2 separate regions of the Homo sapiens genome follow, and region 2 is linked to region 1. A link means that fine-mapping ties the variant in region 1 to the expression of a gene that starts in the linked region. Tissue or cell type: monocytes after LPS. Region 1 holds a variant in brackets; the other region holds the start of a gene. All regions are shown on one strand. Distances are from middle to middle.

What was found. PIP is the estimated chance that this variant, and not a neighbour inherited with it, causes the effect.
Region 2: KATNIP starts here. The variant in region 1 is fine-mapped to the expression of KATNIP in monocytes after LPS (Fairfax 2014, PIP 0.95).

The regions. Positions count from the first base shown.
Region 1 is chr16:27,772,460-27,780,784 of GRCh38, reverse strand. KATNIP (katanin interacting protein) reads right to left here. Exons shown (of 28, transcript NM_015202.5): 23 at 7,576-7,686; 24 at 5,701-5,840; 25 at 3,756-3,857; 26 at 3,015-3,175; 27 at 2,816-2,904; 28 at 441-2,211. The coding sequence ends at 2,156. Among named protein-coding and RNA genes, the nearest start is that of KATNIP, 230 kb to the right of the region's middle. RefSeq lists an enhancer at 5,810-6,310. The variant T/C (reference allele first, on the strand shown) is at 3,201.
Region 2 is chr16:27,546,294-27,554,618 of GRCh38, reverse strand. It overlaps KATNIP (katanin interacting protein), which reads right to left and starts at 4,475. Exons shown (of 28, transcript NM_015202.5): 1 at 4,442-4,475. The coding sequence starts at 4,448. It overlaps GTF3C1 (general transcription factor IIIC subunit 1), which reads left to right and starts at 4,706. Exons shown (of 37, transcript NM_001520.4): 1 at 4,706-4,949. The coding sequence starts at 4,729. RefSeq lists enhancers at 4,610-4,719, 4,730-4,809.

The DNA of each region.
Region 1 (8,325 bases):
ACATGGTGAAGGGAAACCCCAGGGCCAAAGACCCAAGTGTTGTCACCCCCACCTCAACTCTCCAGGGGCCCTCTCAGGATTTGTGCATTGGCTAATAGCTTCCAAAGCTGTGTGTCCCAGGAAAGCTGCACAACCTCTCTGTGTCTCAGCTCCCTTATCTGTAAAGTGAGGATAATAATAGTGCCCACCCCAAAGGGTTGTGTTACGTGGATTAAACAAGTTAGAGCCAGGCATGTAATCACCACTCTCTATGGATGAGCTACTGTTGTCTGCTCATACGGCAGGACAATCTCATTGAGTAGTCAGGGCGAGATCATGACCCCATCTGCAGCTCAGTGAGGGCTTCTCTGTGTCACTCAGCTCCTGGAGGCAGCATGGACTCCCCATCTGACCCCAAATCCGGTGACTCGGACTATATTCTTAATAACATCTTTTATTAATTTTGCAAGAGGAAAAAAATAGAAATTTATTTTAGAGTTAAAGCTTGTACAGCCTTTTTTTCCCCTCCTAAATTGCACAGTACATACGATTATTATAAACATCAGCTGCGGTTCTGGGAGTGAGCTTGTGTCGTGTTAGTGCCATCTCCCTGACAAATCTGACCTGTACCCACATCTCAGCTGGGAAGGAGTAGCTGGGCCTCCCTTTAATGCAGCGGCACTGGTTTGGGTCACAAGAGCTGGTTTGATCAACCCCTGACTCCCCCTGGCGGGAGGTGCTCGTCACATCTGGGAGCTGAGCAGAGGTGCCGGGGGCTTGGAAGCTGGAGAAATGATGGATCTTTCTCCAGGAGAAACAATTCTTATCTTCACATCAGCCCCGTGCTCCAAATGAAAAGCGCGTTTGCATAGCTGCTCGAGCCCAGGCTGCTAAGCTCATGAAGTATTTGCCGGGGCTCTCGGTTGCATAGGAACGTACCTCGAGTACAGTACTGCGGCGGGCCGGGCTGGGCGCCAGAAAAACAACGGATTAATATTTGCAACGAGAAATTACCCACTACTGGGAAACCAATTAGGTCCCTGATCCGAGCTTGTTACATCGATGCATATAGATGCGTTCTGGGCTTCACTCGGCTGGGGGTGCAAGGCACATTTCCAACTCGCTGGGAAGTGGCTGAAGGGGGAGAAGGGGTGGGGGCCTGGGAAAGGAGCACCTCACTGCCTGCCTCCAAGGGCACAGGGGCAGAGACAGAAAGCAGCCACATCAGTGAGCACAGCCGTGATCAGACCAGGAGGGACATGTGGCAGAGAGTGCAGGGAGGGCCTGCTCAAGGGTGAGGGGAGATGGGGGATTGTCCTCAGTGTTCCCCAACACCTGCATCCAGAGGGCACTGGGGTGAGTTCTTCTGGCCCTCTGGGGTCTGGAGCTGCCAGCCTGCTGGCCACCCACCCACCCTTCCTGGCCCGGCAGCAGCACGCAGATGATACCCTGGCCTGCCAGAGTGGGCCCAGCTCTTGCCAAGGTGGATGGCGGGTGGCCCAGCTGACTTCCTTCCCTCTGCAGGATGCACACAGCCTTGGCCAATCCCTTATCAGGCCCGATGAGAGGAGAGAGGCCCCTATACCGGGATGAGAGAGGGTCTTGTGGACCCCTGTAACCAGGAAACTACCCCAACCTCTCAGCCAGCTCCACCAGTCCCCAAATGAGACAAGGATGCGCAGGGGATGGGGGGTGTTGGCCGCTGAAGCTCAGGTTTCTGAAGGCAGTCTCCCTGGGCAGTGCCCTGCTTACTGGAGTTGCGGGGTAGGGTCTGGTCTCCCACTGTCCTGCTCAGCCATTCTCTGGGCCCTCTGAGGCTGGATGGGATGCCTCCCCACCCCGTCATTGTCCTGTTCTGAGTCAGGGTCAGCCCAGGCCCTAGTGGTCATGGGCCCTGCTTTGCTGGGTCTCACAGCAGAGGCATGAAGGCGGGTGTCCTGGGCTCCCTGTGGCCAACCCAGAACTGCAGGGGATCTCTTTGCCCTGCAGCCACAGCCATCTGTCACTCTGGTAGTATCCAGGGCTGTCCTCCCGAGTCCCCTCTTCCCAGCGGGCTCCCCTCAACACTGTGGTTCGCTTCCAGCTCCTGGGACTGAGGGTGAGGGACGCAGGCACTGAGTGGGGCTGCTGACGGAGCCCACCATAGTGGGAGGACCAGCTCTCCCTCCTTCACCAGTCAGCAGCGCCGTCGTCTCGTCTCCTTCTCGCTGATGCAGGTTTTGGGACGTAAGGCTGTCATGACAGGGAACAGAGGGACCAGAGTTACTAAGTCTCAAACCCTGGAGGGGTGCCCCACACTCCCCAGTGAAATCCAGCAGCCTGGGTTGCCATTCAAGGCCCTTGGAAAAGTCCCTGCTCTCGGGGCGCCTGGCACGCTGGCCCCTTCCCTCCGCCTGGAGCAGGCTCTGCCACAACACCCCTCTCAGCCTTTGCCCAGGCTGCCTGGCACACTCCTCACATCCTTTAGGATCCAGCTCAAACATCACCTCCTCCGGGAAGCCCTCACCTTGGGCATCCTCTATTGGTTTCCCACGGCCCGGGGCAAACCCCTTTAACATGGTGCTCTGTCCCTGACTGCTTCCCCACTCTGTGCCCACGACACTTAGATTCAGGAAGCTCCACTGTGTTACAGGTGCCTGCAAGAAGATGGAAGCATGTTGCTCCCCTGGTTCCATCCTCTTCAGTCCCTCCCTAGGCCTTTGGGCAGGCTCCTGGGCAGAGGAGAGCGGTCTAGGGGCAGGCAGGGGTGAGGGTGGGGGTGCAAGGCCACCAGCTCCTTCTATATTCAGACCGAGCTCCCAAGGCACAATGCTCTGGGCAGAGAAACGCCACTGACCTGGGTCAACAACGCTCTGCTTCCGTTTCGCGTTGGTAATGATTTGGTTTTCATTCATCATCTGGACATCTTGATCCTCGGCCTGATTACTGAGGGTAGGAAGGAAACACAAGATTCGATCAGGCTCCTGGCCGTGTGTCCCAGCCATCCATCCTCCTTAGGGCTGGTGGGGAGGCCATGGGGCCGGCTGGGGCCCTACCTGATGGTGGTGTGTTTCTCCTGGTGGCGGATGTCCCTGTCCTCGGTGAAGAGGATGGTGTGGTAGGGCACGGTGGGCTCACATGTGGGCAGGATGCCCCCCACCAGGTGGCTCACCATGGCCAGGATCCCATTGTACACAAGCAGGTCGTCCACCAGGAGCTGCAGGGACACGGGGCAGGACTCA[T/C]GGGTCCCCCTCGTCCCTCCCACGTTGACCTTGGGCAGAACGCGTTACTGCTCTGAGCCAAGGCTTTCTCCTCGGGAAGACGGGGCTGTCAGGAACAAGCGCCTACTGTGTGCTGTGTCTGCCTTGTGATTTCAGATCTTCACAACCATTGGGAAAGGCAGGAGCTATCAGCATGCATTGCAGATGAGGAAATTGAGGCCCGAGGGGCTTTAATACCATTAGCACAAGTGGCAGAGCTGGAGGCAAACTTGGGTCTCTGGTATCCAGGGTCCCTGTTTTCCCCATCCCAGGGTCACCGCCCCAAACCAGTGGGATTCTAGAGGAAAAGACGAAAGAAAACCCACTTTCTATTTGCTCAGGGTGACACTGAAATCACTGCCAGCAGGTTCTGAATTCATGGTTGGGTGGGAAATTCGCCTGCATCTGACGACCAGGCATTTGTGTTGAGGGTTGCAACAGAGAGAAGTAAATCAAACTGCGACAAATGATAATTGCCGGCGGCCTAATTACCAACGAGCATAATTATCTCAAAAAACTCAGCTAATAAGTACTTACGCCAAACTCCTTCACCCCTCGATGGGGTGTTTTCGCATAATTCCACAGTTTGATCATTGACACGGTGGTAGGCAGATCGAAAATCACATAAACCCGGTTCACCTGTCAGAGAGCGGCACTAATTAAAACAGGCATGTTTGGAAACAGAGGCGCTTGGCTGGGCTGGGGGTGCCAGGCGTGGGCTGGGGTGAGCGGTGGTGCCCAAGGCAGCGCCTGCCACGTGGGCCAGCCTGGAGTTCCGCCCCCTTTCATCTCCTCGAAGCCCATCTTGAGTCAGGTCACGTGTGGCTGCATTTGCAACAAACCGCTGAGCTGGCTTTTGGAGGGCCTGTGTTCTTGGGCCTGTCGGAGCCCTCATTTAAATGCCAGTGGAGGATTGGGAACATCCTCGGCCCTCCCCCACGTCCCCTCAGGTCAGGCCCAGAAATAGTCTAGAGCCCCATGAGCTAAAGGGACAGTCCCCAACTCGGGTTGAGCACCAGCCATGGTGATCAGCATCTGACCCTGTCTGTCCTTTCCCCAAACCATCACTGAGAAGCAACGCCAAGGTGCTGCTGGACAATGTCCAGGGCGTGTCTGTGAACCTCCGCTGGGGGAGTAAAAAGGGGGCTGTCTAGATCGGGGCAGAATCCAGTGGGAAAAGTGGGACGGAGCAGCCTCAAACAGCCCTCCCTCTCCCCACCCCCAACCAAAGCTCTCAGATATTAGGGGAGGCCCTCCCTTGCAAGACAGAATCAAGAAATAAGCATTCCACACTGGCCACAGACTGCAGGCTCAGTCCTGCCCCAGGCCCTGGTCCCCAGCCTGTGACCATCCTCAGAATATGCCAAGAGGGAGTGCGGCTGCTCGGGTAGGGCCAGCCTCCTGGCTGGACCATGGAAACAATAAAGGTCAGGGTGAGGGTCTCCAAACTCAGTTGCCTGTGAGGCTCAAGCAGATACAGATGTTGGAGTCCAGCCGCGAGAGCAACAGCTGAAGTCGCCGCACCCCAAAAGGCCTTCCAGTGCTAGACAATGGAAAATACCCGCTGGCCGTCAGTGGGTGGCCTGAGTCTCAGGGAGGACAGAGCTCTGTTGCCCCCTCTGCAATGGGGCAGGGGAAGCTGAGGACGCTCAATAGGGGGGGTCTAATTTTAGGGTGGCCTTTGGAAAACTTCCGTCATAGAATTGCTGATGCTGTACCTTCCTGTGTTTTCAGAGAAAAAGGTGCCCCCGATCCCCCACTCAGTCCCATGGCATGGACAAGGGACACATCCCTAGTCATATGGCTGCCAAGAACCCGCTGTGCATCTCTACCAGGCACCTGGCCCTGGGCTGAGAGGCTGCAGGGGGGCTGACCACCCCGTCCATGCCCTCTCCCCTTCCTCTCCACCACAACCAACCACGTCTTCTCACCATGAGGCCTCAGAGCTAAAAGCTAAGCAGGACCCAGTGCAAGATTTGAGATCTGGGAAACTGAGTCAGTTGGTCGGAAGAGCTGACCAGGCCAATTTAGGGCCAGAAGGAGGGCAGGGCGGCCGTACTGGGGTCATCTACCTGGTGATGTAGGAAGGGGCAGAAACCGTGAGTGTGCGGAGAGCTGGGTGGGGAGGAAGAGGGCACAGTGGCTGCAAAGCCAGGCAGAGCAGAGAACCAGAGAGGGCTGCCTGCAGGGACCCAGGACGCCCAAGCCCTCAGGCAGTTGTGCTGGGGTTCCTGGCTTCAGATTCCCATGGGACCCCTTTCGCCCCAGGTGTCCACTTATAAAAGAGAAAGAACTGCTGGCCTGGAAGAGCTGACCCCATCAGGCAAGTTAGCAAAGACCTAAACCTTTCTGACAGCTCCCAAGCATCTTGGCTTGAGATTAACTTGACCTGGAAGAAAGACGTGTCACTGAGACCAGGGAAAGAAAGTCCCCCTGCCCGCCTGAGGGCCAGGAGCTGCGGTGGCCGCTGCCGGGAACCCACCAGGCCCGGCAGGATGGGAGCCAGCCACATGTGCCGGCCATCACTGGTGTCGTTCACTTGGTCGATGAGCTTGTCTGGGGTGCGGACGTCCCCGCCCACACCCTCCAGGGAGTTCACGCTGTCGGGGAAGGCCGCAATATCTGAGGAGACGTCTAAGTTGCCATAACCCAAATCTGTGTGCTCGGGGCTGCCAGCCACCCTCAGGCTGATGGCGTGGCTCGGGGGACTCTGGGGCTGGCAGGGCTGATGCTTTGGGCAGCCGCAGCAGTGACAGCTGAATTGGACGTGTCCTGGGGAAACGGGGAGTGCCGGGCCCAAGGGGAGCAGGTGTGTCTGGAGAGGTGGTCAGTTTCAAGTAGAGAGAGAAGGAAACCACACAGAAGGCCAGCTGAAAAAGAGACGTTGCAGGGAACTGCCAGAGCTGGGGACGTAAAATGTTGCTGCTGCTTGAGAGGGTGGAGGGCAAGCTCTGCGGAGGTTTTCTTTTGGAAGGGAATGGGGCGGTGGCTGGATTCTACCCTGGCATGTGAGTATCATGCCGAGCCTCTCTTCCTGGTCAGTGTGGAAGGACCTCGGAGCAGCTGGACCCAGCTAATGTGATCTGCAGAACCCAGCTTCTAGCTCTGCCTCTGCCATTATGACCTGTGAGGGCGTGGGCAAGTCACAGGTCAACCCTGGGCCTGTTTTCCCATCTGTAAAATGGGTATAAAAACCTCCAGCTCCCAGGATGGATGTGAGGATCTCAGAGTGCACCAGATGTGAGCACTTTGGTAAAATCAATGAAACTTTATAGCTTCGAGGAGTCGCTAATAATGATCTAAAACATCAAGAATCATTCATCCCAGCTGAGGAGGGTGGTGGCACCAGGGGAAGGCAGAAAAGGATCCAACTGGAAGCCAGGGACCCCAAACAGATGCAAGGCAGGCTTTGGGGTTCGACTTGCCCTGGTATTTCCCTAACTGTGGTGGGCCAGGGATCACAGATTCAAGATCCGAGGGGGCCAGGCAGGTTACATGAAAGAGGCAGGATAGCCTACTGCTTGGTCAAGAGCTGGTGTCTGGACACTCACTGGCTGTGTGACATTAGGCAAGTTACTCAATCTCTCTGTGTCTCAGGCTCCTCATCTGTAAAATGGGGATAACAGCAGCAATCACCTCACAAGATTGTTGTGAGGGCAGATGAGGTAGCACAGAGTGAGCCCTGAGAAAATATTAGCAGTGAGTTTCGGGGCCTGGTAGATAACAATGGGAGGAGTGGGGGGCTAAGGTAGACCAGAAGGATATGCTTGGGGAGAAATGGCAACAGATAACCAGGTCCAGCCATTGTCACTATGCATAATCAAGGGCCTGTGTTGCCAATTTCTCAGGGGAAACCAGAGATCAGGGTTTTCATGTGAAACCTCGTGATTTCTAAAAATATTAGCAACTCATTTTAAAATGCACTGGGCTAACAGTCTGCAAATTCTGGTGTGGGCATACTATGCACAAAGGGTTCCATACTTAAGAAATTCAGGACACACTGAGTTGAACACAGTGCAACAGGCTTCTCCCTGCAGACCTTGTCAGAGCCTTTGGAACTCCAAAGTATCTGTGGTTCTCCGAGAAGGGGGCGCTATAGTTGGCAGCCTCTCTCAATTCACTGGACCACAGGACTCTGGTTTGTGGAATTCCTGCTCCTGATGTCTTAGCAGGCAGGGCTGGGAGCTGCTCTCTGCTGCCCGTCCCCAAGGGTCAGCATCTGACTATAAGCAAAGCCCCCTGGGCTCTGGTTCCTAGAGGGCCATTTCCCTCTGCACACAAGGCTTCTGCCCCGTTCCCGACCCTCCCATGCTCCCTTCAGTCTGGGTGGAGCCCACTCCTGTCCTACAAAGGATACTGTTTTCCGACAAGGGGATTTTTTCTCCTCGCTCGTCATACAGCTCCAGGCCGGTGAGGCCGATGTAGTAGGGGTCGCCCCAGCTGGTGAGAAGCTGAAACTGGAAAATGACTGGGACACTTTATTAAGGAAAAGAAGGCTTAATTTTTTTTTTTCAGAATATAGTAAAACAATGGCAAAGATAAGAGGAATTGTTTTGGGTTTATGTTGATGAATGAGAGAAAAACATTTTTCTCTTATTGCAACTAGAGCCTATCAAAATATAGGTAGCATCACATTTTCTTAAATTGCATGTGTGTGCATGTGTGTGTGTGTGTGCATGTGAGTGTTCATGTGTGTGTATGCATGCATGTGTGCACGTGTGCGTGTGCCCGTGTGTGTGTGTATTAGGAATTCAAAGCCTTCCTCTAGGCCCCAGGAGACAGGACGGGAGGAGAGGGTGCTCTCCAGGGAGCAGGCAGGATGGGGAAACATCTGTGTCACAAACTGATTGTATGGTATTGAACAAAATGCTCCAGTTTCCCTGGTTGTGAAATGACAAGAACAGAGTACCTGCAACCTCCTCCATCCCTTTCAAGTAAACAGGAGGCTAAGAAGGGGACACATAAACCTCACAGCGCCAGGGGCCATGGGCCGGGGCAAGGAGACCACCATTGCTGCTGAAGTCCCACGTGCAGAGCTGGGCATCAAGCCTTTCCTCAGCCCTGTGCTCTGCTCACTCCCCGCACTCCCAGGAGCAGGCCGGGTGGC
Region 2 (8,325 bases), 230 kb after region 1:
ATGCTCATTAGAAGGCACAAAGCAGCCTTCCTGAAAATGGACTGTAGCAATGTTTCTCAAAGGTGCAGATCCTGGGAGAAGGAGGGGTCCACAAAGACAAAAGTATTTTAATCATAATTTGAAGAGTATTTCACTGTGTTGAATTTTTTTTCTTTTGAGACAGTCTCACTCTGTTGCCCAGGCTGCAATACAGTGGCATGATCTTGGCTCACTGCAACCTCTGCCTCCTGGGTTCAAGCGATTCTCTTGCCTCAGCCTCCCCCAAGTAGCTGGGACCACAGTTATGTGCCACCATGCCCAGCTAATTTTTGTATTTTTAGTAGAGACAGGGTTTCACCATGTTGGCCAGGCTAGTCTCAAACTCCCGACCTCAGGTGATCGCCCACCTTGGCCTCTCAAAGTGCTGGGATTACAGGCGTGAGCCACCCCATCTGGCTGTGTTGACATTTGTACTTATGACACAAAGCAATGGTGGGTAAAACTGCTTGCAGTCTGAATCAAGGCAATGTTACCACAATGTACTAGAAACCTTCCCTCCTTCCTTCCTCCCTCCCTTCTTCCATCCCTCCCTTCTTTCCTCCTTCCTTTCTCTCTCCTCTCCCTCCCTTCTTTCCTTCCTTCCTTTCTCTCTCCTCTCTCCCCCCACCCCACCCCCTGCTCTCTCTCTCTCTAGACAAGGTCTTTTTGCCCAGGCTGGAGTGCAGTGGCACAGTCATGGCTCACTGTAGCCTCAACCTCCTAAGCTCAACTGATCCTGAGTGGCTGGGACTACAGGCACGAGCCACTATACCTGTCTAATTTTTTACTTTTTACAGAGATGGGGTCTCACTAAGTTGCCCAGGCTGGTCTTGACCTCCTGGGCTCAAGTGATCCCCACACCTCAGTCTCCTTAGCAGCTAGAACCACAGGTGCATGCTACCATGCCTGACTATTATTTATTTATTTATTTATTTTATTTATTTATTTAGTAGAGATGGAGTCTCACTATGTTGACGAAGCTGGTCTTGAATTTCTGGGCTGAAGAGATCCTCTTGTCTTGGCCTCCCAAAGCGGTGGGACTATAGGCGTGAGCCACTGAACCCAACCATCAGGACATTCTTAAATAAAAATAATTGTTTGTTTGTTTTAAATGTGAGTACATGGCAGTAAATAAAATAATAGACAAATTTTGGTTATTCAGTCTTGGGAATTTGGCAGAAATTTTCTCAAATATGAAATAAGTGAGTCTGTCACTTCAAGGAAACAGCTGACAATATTTGCTGCCAATGTTAAAATTCAAGCTGTCAAGTGAAAACAAGTTGAAAACTTGTTTCCATTACCTTGAGTTTGATAGTTTCCTAATACTTAAACTCCTTTTTAAAATGAAATAGGTGGTGATATTAACAAATGTGATTTTTTAAATACCGTATAATGGCATCTGAAAGGTCAACGTTTAGATTTGCATAACTCACTGAACCAACATTTTCTAAACGACCAATGGCTGATGTTATAAAACCATATATGGGTAAAGCAGCCAATGAAAGGGCAAGATAGACCAATGGATTTTAATGTAACACAGTATAAAAGTTCACCTATAAGGCTTCAGATGACACACTGTGACTAACATTTAAGAAACTGCCACTTGTGGCCTGGCATGGTTCTTCATGCCTGTAATCCCAGCACTTTGGGAGGCCAAGGCGGGCGGATCACCTGAGGTTGGCAGTTTGAGACCAGCCTGACCAACATAGAGAAACCCCATCTCTACTAAAAGTACAAAATTAGCTGAGCGTGGTGGCACATGCCTGTAATCCCAGCTACTTGGGAGGCTGAGGCAGGAGAATCGCTTGAACCCGGGAGGCGGAGGTTGCGGTGAGCCGAGATCAGGCCATTGCACTCCAGCCTGGGCAACGACGGCAAAACTCCCGTCTCAAAAAAAAAAAAAAAAAAAAAAAACTGCCACTTGCAGGCCAGGCATGGTGGCTCACGTCTGTAATCCCAGCACTTTGGGAAATGGAGGCAGGCTGATCACCTGAGGTCAGGAGTTTGCGACCAGCTGGCCAACATGGGGAAACCCCATGTCTACTAAAAATAAAAAAAATTAGCTGGGCATGGTGGTTCACACCTGTGATCCCAGCTACTCGGGAGGTTGAGGCAGGAGAATCGCTTGAACCCAGCAGGCAGAGGTTGCAGTGAGCTGAGATCGTGCCACTGCACTCCAGCCTGGGCGACAGTGAGACTTTTTCTCAAAAAAAAAAAAAAAAAGAAAAAAGAAACTGGCATTTGCTAAATTTTGTATAGTATGAAAGGAGAGTGTCTACAGTTATCTGAAAAGGCAATTAAAATGTTTCTCTCTGCTCCAATTATATATTTGTATGAGGCCAAATTTTCTTCATACACACCAGCCAAAACAGCATAACAAAAAACAGTTTGAATCCTGAAGCAGAAATGAGAGTAGTTTTTTCTATTTCTATTGAATAAACTTGAAAAAACATAAAATAATGCTACTCTTCCTATTAATTTTTTGGAGGCAAATGTAATTGTTTTCCATTAAAAATATTATTTATGTTCAGAAGTAATGGGTTTATTGTTGTTGGAGTTTTTTTGAGACAGGGTCTAGCTATGTTGCCCAGGCTGGTCTTGAACTCCTGAGCTCAAGCAATCCACCCACTTCAGCCTCCCAAACTGCTGGGATCACAGGTGTGAGGCACTGCACATGGCCAATTATTATTATGATTATTATGAGCCACTGCACCTGGCCAATTATTATTATTATTATTGGGTTTTTTTGAGACAGAGTCTCGCCCTGTTGCCCAGGCTGGAGTGCAGTGGCAAGATCTCGGCTTCAAATGATTCTCCTGCCTCAGCCTTCCAAGTAGCTGGGATTACAGACATGTGTCACCACGTCCGGCTAAGTTTTAGTAGAGACAAGGTTTCACCATGTTGGCCAGGCTGGTCTCGAACTCCTGACCTCAAGTGATCCACCTGCCTTGGCCTTCCAGAGTGCTAGGATTACAGGCACGAGTCCATGCCCGGCCCAATTTTTATTATTTTTAAAGGAACTAATTAATGGACATCTTAAGATTTTCCCAGTTTAAATCTTCGATATGGTAAATATCATAAATATAAATAAACAAAGCTCTTTGAGGTAAGAGCATACAGGGGTCCCAAGGCTTAAAAGGTTTGAGGACTGATGTTCTATAGCAACATTACATTGACCTTTCCAGAAGGCAAAATGGTAAAGCACATTTTATAGTACCTCTAAAGTACAAAGGGAAAAGATATATTTTAAGCATATGACAGAATGTTCAATTAAAAACATTTTCTCCACACTACATTCAGTGAATATAAAAAGAATGTGGATTCCCCAGGAACAAATTCCCGAGAAGTGAGGGACAGTGCTGTAATTAGAAAAATGATCTGGACTCTAGCCCAGACCCTACCAGTCTCTCTAGACTTTAGTCTTCCCATCTGCAAAGTGAGATATCAGAATAGCCTATTTTCCATTTGCTTCCAATTGTCAATACCATGACTCTAATCAGGGATCCCTAAATGGGGGCCCACAAGCTGTCTCTGGCCTTCAGAGTGACTGGCCAACCCTGTTTTTGAGAAGTACCCCAAGAGGACAATCAGCTGGTGCTTGGTGAGCAGCTTTCCTTTCAGGTGAGGAATTGATTTTCAGTTACAGCCTCAATCCGGCTCACTAGACTCTCCTCTGCAGACATCTGCATTTACAACCTCTGGAATAAAGGGACCCTCAAAACCGGTCCAAATCTCAAGCTCCATAATTCAGCTCCAGAGACAGGGTGTCTGGGTTTCTCACTCACTCTGCTACATGCTGGTTGTTTGACTTTGGGCAAGTTCCTTAACACCTCTGAGCCTCAGTTTCATCATCTGTAAAATGGAACAACGCTGAACTCAAAAGGCTGGTATGAAGCTTAGCGAGGTGTTGCCCAAGAGTACTTACAGAGTTCTTGGTACTGGAAAGCACTTTGTTAAAGGGAGCTATTATTATTAACGCCAAGGCACAGAAAGGGAGTATTTCCTAAACTCCCTTCACCCCCCACACCAATTCCCTTTCCCAGCACCTGACGATTGCACTCCCACGATCAAGCTTGTTTTCATATCAACTCCCAAATCCGACAGTTCCACATCCCAACATTCACAAGACCCTCCTCAGACCTCTACTTCTCCTTCCCCACCCTACATCCCTTCACTGAGCTCCCGGCCAGTACCGGTTTCCTTCACGACCACAGCCGAGCAGAATGGTCACAGCACTGACCACTCCCCCAGGCTCTCCTCCGCGTTCCAGACCACTAAGCCTCCCTATCCCTCATTTCGGAGACCCCCTTGGGTCAGGAAGTGGTGGTCCAGGGGTTCATGGCCTAGGATTCTGCCCAAAGCGCGGTCGGGAGGGATGGGAGAATAACAGCCCGACCTCCCGGAGGGGCCCACAGACACTCACCGTCCATCCCTAGAGGCGGCGGTTCCGGGAGCTCGAACCGGAAGCGGCCTCTACACTGTTTGCAGTTCCCCTGGTTACTGCGGGGCCCCGGACCAATGACGGTGGAGCTCCACTTACTGAGCCCGCCCCCGGGGAGTGACGTCATGCCGGCGCGCTGGAACTCCTCCTCCGAACCCTGGGTCTGACCCACCTCCCCGGGCCCCGGATCGTTGTGCGCAGGCGCGATGGACCAAGGCCCTTGGCGGTGCGTTGCGCATGCGCCCCGGGCGCCGCCGACTGAAGTAGCAATGGACGCGCTGGAGTCGTTGTTGGACGAAGTCGCTCTGGAGGGGCTCGATGGCCTGTGTCTGCCAGCGCTGTGGAGCCGGCTGGAGACGCGAGTGCCGCCCTTCCCGCTGCCTTTGGAACCCTGCACGCAGGAGTTTCTCTGGCGGGCCCTCGCCACGCACCCGGGCATCAGCTTCTATGAGGAGCCTCGGGAGCGACCCGACCTACAGCTCCAGGACCGGTCAGCGGGCGGCCTGGCCTGGCGGGCGGGCGGGCGGGCGCAGGGCCCGGGGGCTGATGGAGCTGGGGGCAGGGCGGGGGAATGGAGTGGGGCTGTGCAAGTACCGGAGGCCTGTTGATTGAGTTGGGGCACGGCGGTAAGGCTAATCTGGGGTCCCTCAGGCCTGGCAGGGCCCTGGAGTCCGATGGAGTTGGCGGGGGGAGGGGGAGAATCTAGTGATGTCCCGTTTTGTCCCTGTGTGTGTTTTGGGGTAATGGCGAACAGGATTGGGGATATTCTTCAGGCTTAAAAGAATGTTTCCTTTACATTGGAGGATAGGATTAGAGCAGGAAAGACACTTTAGAGCCAGACTGGAGACTCCTGAGATCAACAGACCCTCATGGTATATTCATTCGGTGCAGATAGCCTAGGGCAACTCGAGATCTGCGTATCAGGACAATTAGCGATAATGCTAAAAGCTGACATTTATCAGGGACTTCATGGGTGAGGTGCTGTTCTTTTTTTTCTTTTTTGAGATAGAGTCTCTCTCTGTGGCCCAGGCTGGAGTGCAGTGGCGCGATCTTGGCTCACTGCAACCTCCGTCCGCCTCCCAGGTTCAAGCGATTCTCGTGCCTCAGCCTCCTGAGTAACTGGGATTACAGGCATGTTCCACCACGCCCGGCTAATTTTTGCATTTTTAGTAGGTATGGGGTGTCATCATGTTGGCCAGGCTGGTCGCGAACTCCTGACCTCAGACAATCCGCACCTCTCGGCCTCCCAAAGTGCTGTGATTACAGGCGTGAGCCACGGCGCCCGGCCACATTGCTGTTCTAAGAATCTATTCTAGAAGCTTTAGGAGCTTAAACTCACTTGATCCTCACTTGATTAAACTCCGTTAAACAGGAGATTAAATTCACTTGATCCTCACCTATGAGGTAGGTGCTGTTATCGTCCTCATTTTACAGAGGAAGACACTGAGTCACAGAGAGGGATTATGTAACCTAAGGTTCTGGGGGCAATAAGTGACTAAGAATTGATTTGAACCCAGGCTATTTTCAGCGTCTGTGCTCTTAAGCCATATTGTGAGGGTCAGGGGAGGTTCCAAGAGGTAATAATGTCCAAGACAGGCCGGGTGCAGCAGCTCATGCCTGCAATCCCAGTACTTTGGGAGGCTGAGGTGGATGGGTCACAAGGTCGGCAGTTCAAGACCCGCCTGACCAACGTGGTGAAACCCTATCTCTACTAAAAATACAAAAATTAGCCTGGCGTGGTGGCGCATGCCTGTATCCCAGCTACTCAGGAGGCTGAGGCAGGAGAATCACTTGAACCTGGGAGACAGAGGTTTCAGTGAGCTGAGATTCAGCCATTGCACTCCAGCCTGGGTGACAGAGTGAGACTCTGTCTCAAAAATAAAATAAAATAATGTTCGAGACAAAACTTAAAGGTTGGATTTAGGCAGCCAGTTGGCAAAGAGGACTGTTGGACAGAGAACAGCAAATGTGAAGTAAGTGGCTGAAGTGTGGAATTGGAGGTAGGGAATGAGGAATAGCTAGGACTGTGCTAAGATCCTTAATACAACATGTTATTTAATTTTTACAGAAACCTTAGGAGATGGGTAATATTCTCCCCATTTTCCTGAAGAGAAAATCGAGGCCCTGAGGGGTCAAGTGGCATGCTAAAAGTCAACTAGCAAGGGAAGAACCCAGACTTTGAGGAAGGTCTGAGTTCAGATTCCAGCCAAATTGGACTGGAATCAAGTCTTTTAACCTACTTAAAGAGTTTATCAGCCTGTAATCCCAGCACTTTGAGAGGCAGAGGTGGGCGGATAACTTGAGGTCAGGAGTTCAAGACCAGTCCAGCCAACATGGTGAAACCCCATGTCTACTAAAAATACAAAAATTAGCTGGGCGTGGTGGTAGACGCCTGAAATCCCAGCTAGGTGGAGGCTGCAGTGAGCCGAGATTGTGCCACTGCACTCCAGCCTGGGTGACAGAGGGAGAATCCATCTCAAAAAAAAAGCTTATCCTTTATCAAAAGGACAGTGAGAAGTCACTGAAGAGAGGGTCAGACTAGGGGCAAAGAGTGAAGTTGAGAGATTTTTAGTAATCTAGTCATGGTCTGGCTTACCATGGTGGGCGTGGGGATGAAGAGCACAGGCAGTCAAGACATAGTAGGCTGCTGTTTGGGCACCTGAGCGAACCCTGATTCTCATCTCTGAGGCTGGGAACACGGAAGAACAGCGTGGGGGTTGAGTCTGGGGGAGGTGGGGACTTTGCTGAAGAGACATGTGACACATTTAGCTTCAGGTTCTTTTGAGTTGTCCAAGTGAAGAGTCTTAATTAGTAAACATCTGGCTTCGTGGGAGTGAAAGCAGGCCAGAGGGAGGGACTGAGCTAGACATCTGTGAGTCATTCCTAGCAGCTGGTAATTAAAGCAGCTGGCTAAGATCAGCCCTAAGAGAGAGTGTAGTGTGGTTGGAGGTCTTGAGATATAGCTCTGCAGTGCACCTACATTTCAAGGCTGGATGGAGGGTGAGGGACTTTCAAAAGAAGACTGAGGCGGTGTGGCTGGAGAGGTAGAGGACAGTCAGGTCAGAGTGGTGTTCTGGAAGTTTGGGAGGAGACAGGATCATTTAAGAACGGAGGGTTGGGCTGGGTGTGGTGAATCATGCCTGTAATCCCAGCACTTTGGGAGGCCGAGGCAGGTGGATCATTTGGCCAACATCGTGAAACCCTCTCTCTACTAAAAATACAAAAATTAGCTGGGTGTGGTGGCAGGTGCCTGTGATCCCAGCTACTAGGGAGGCTGAGGCAGGAGAATCGCTTGAACCCAGAAGGTAGAGGTTGCAGTGAGCCGAGATTGCGCCACTGCACTCCAGCCTGGGTGACAAGATCAAAACTCAAGTCTTAAAAAAAAGGAATGGAGGGTTAAATGGTGCAGATAACACAGAGGGGGCAAGGAAGGAAAGGGCTGAAACATGTACATAGGATTTAGCCGCAATTAGACTAGTGTAGGATATGAGTGAGATTTCAAAATAAAACTCGACAAGCAGCCAGGCAAGGTGGCTCACACCTGTAATCCTAGCACTTTGCAAGGCTGAAGTGGGCAGATTACTTGAGCCCGGTAGTTCAAGACCAATCTGGGCAACATAGTGAGGGGAAAAAAAATTATATATATATATATGTATGTATTTTTTTTTTTTTTCAAAAAAAAAAAAACTTGACAAGCTTGGCTAACTGCATGAAAGAAGCACAAATGAAAAATGTCTCCATGGTGTTGTAAGAGGCACATGGAAGAAAGCGGTAGTAAGAGGGGAAAGAAGGGACTTAATTGGAGCTGGGGAGAGGTAATCATATTTGGAATGGGAGGCATTTAATAGACAAGTGAAGACATTGGA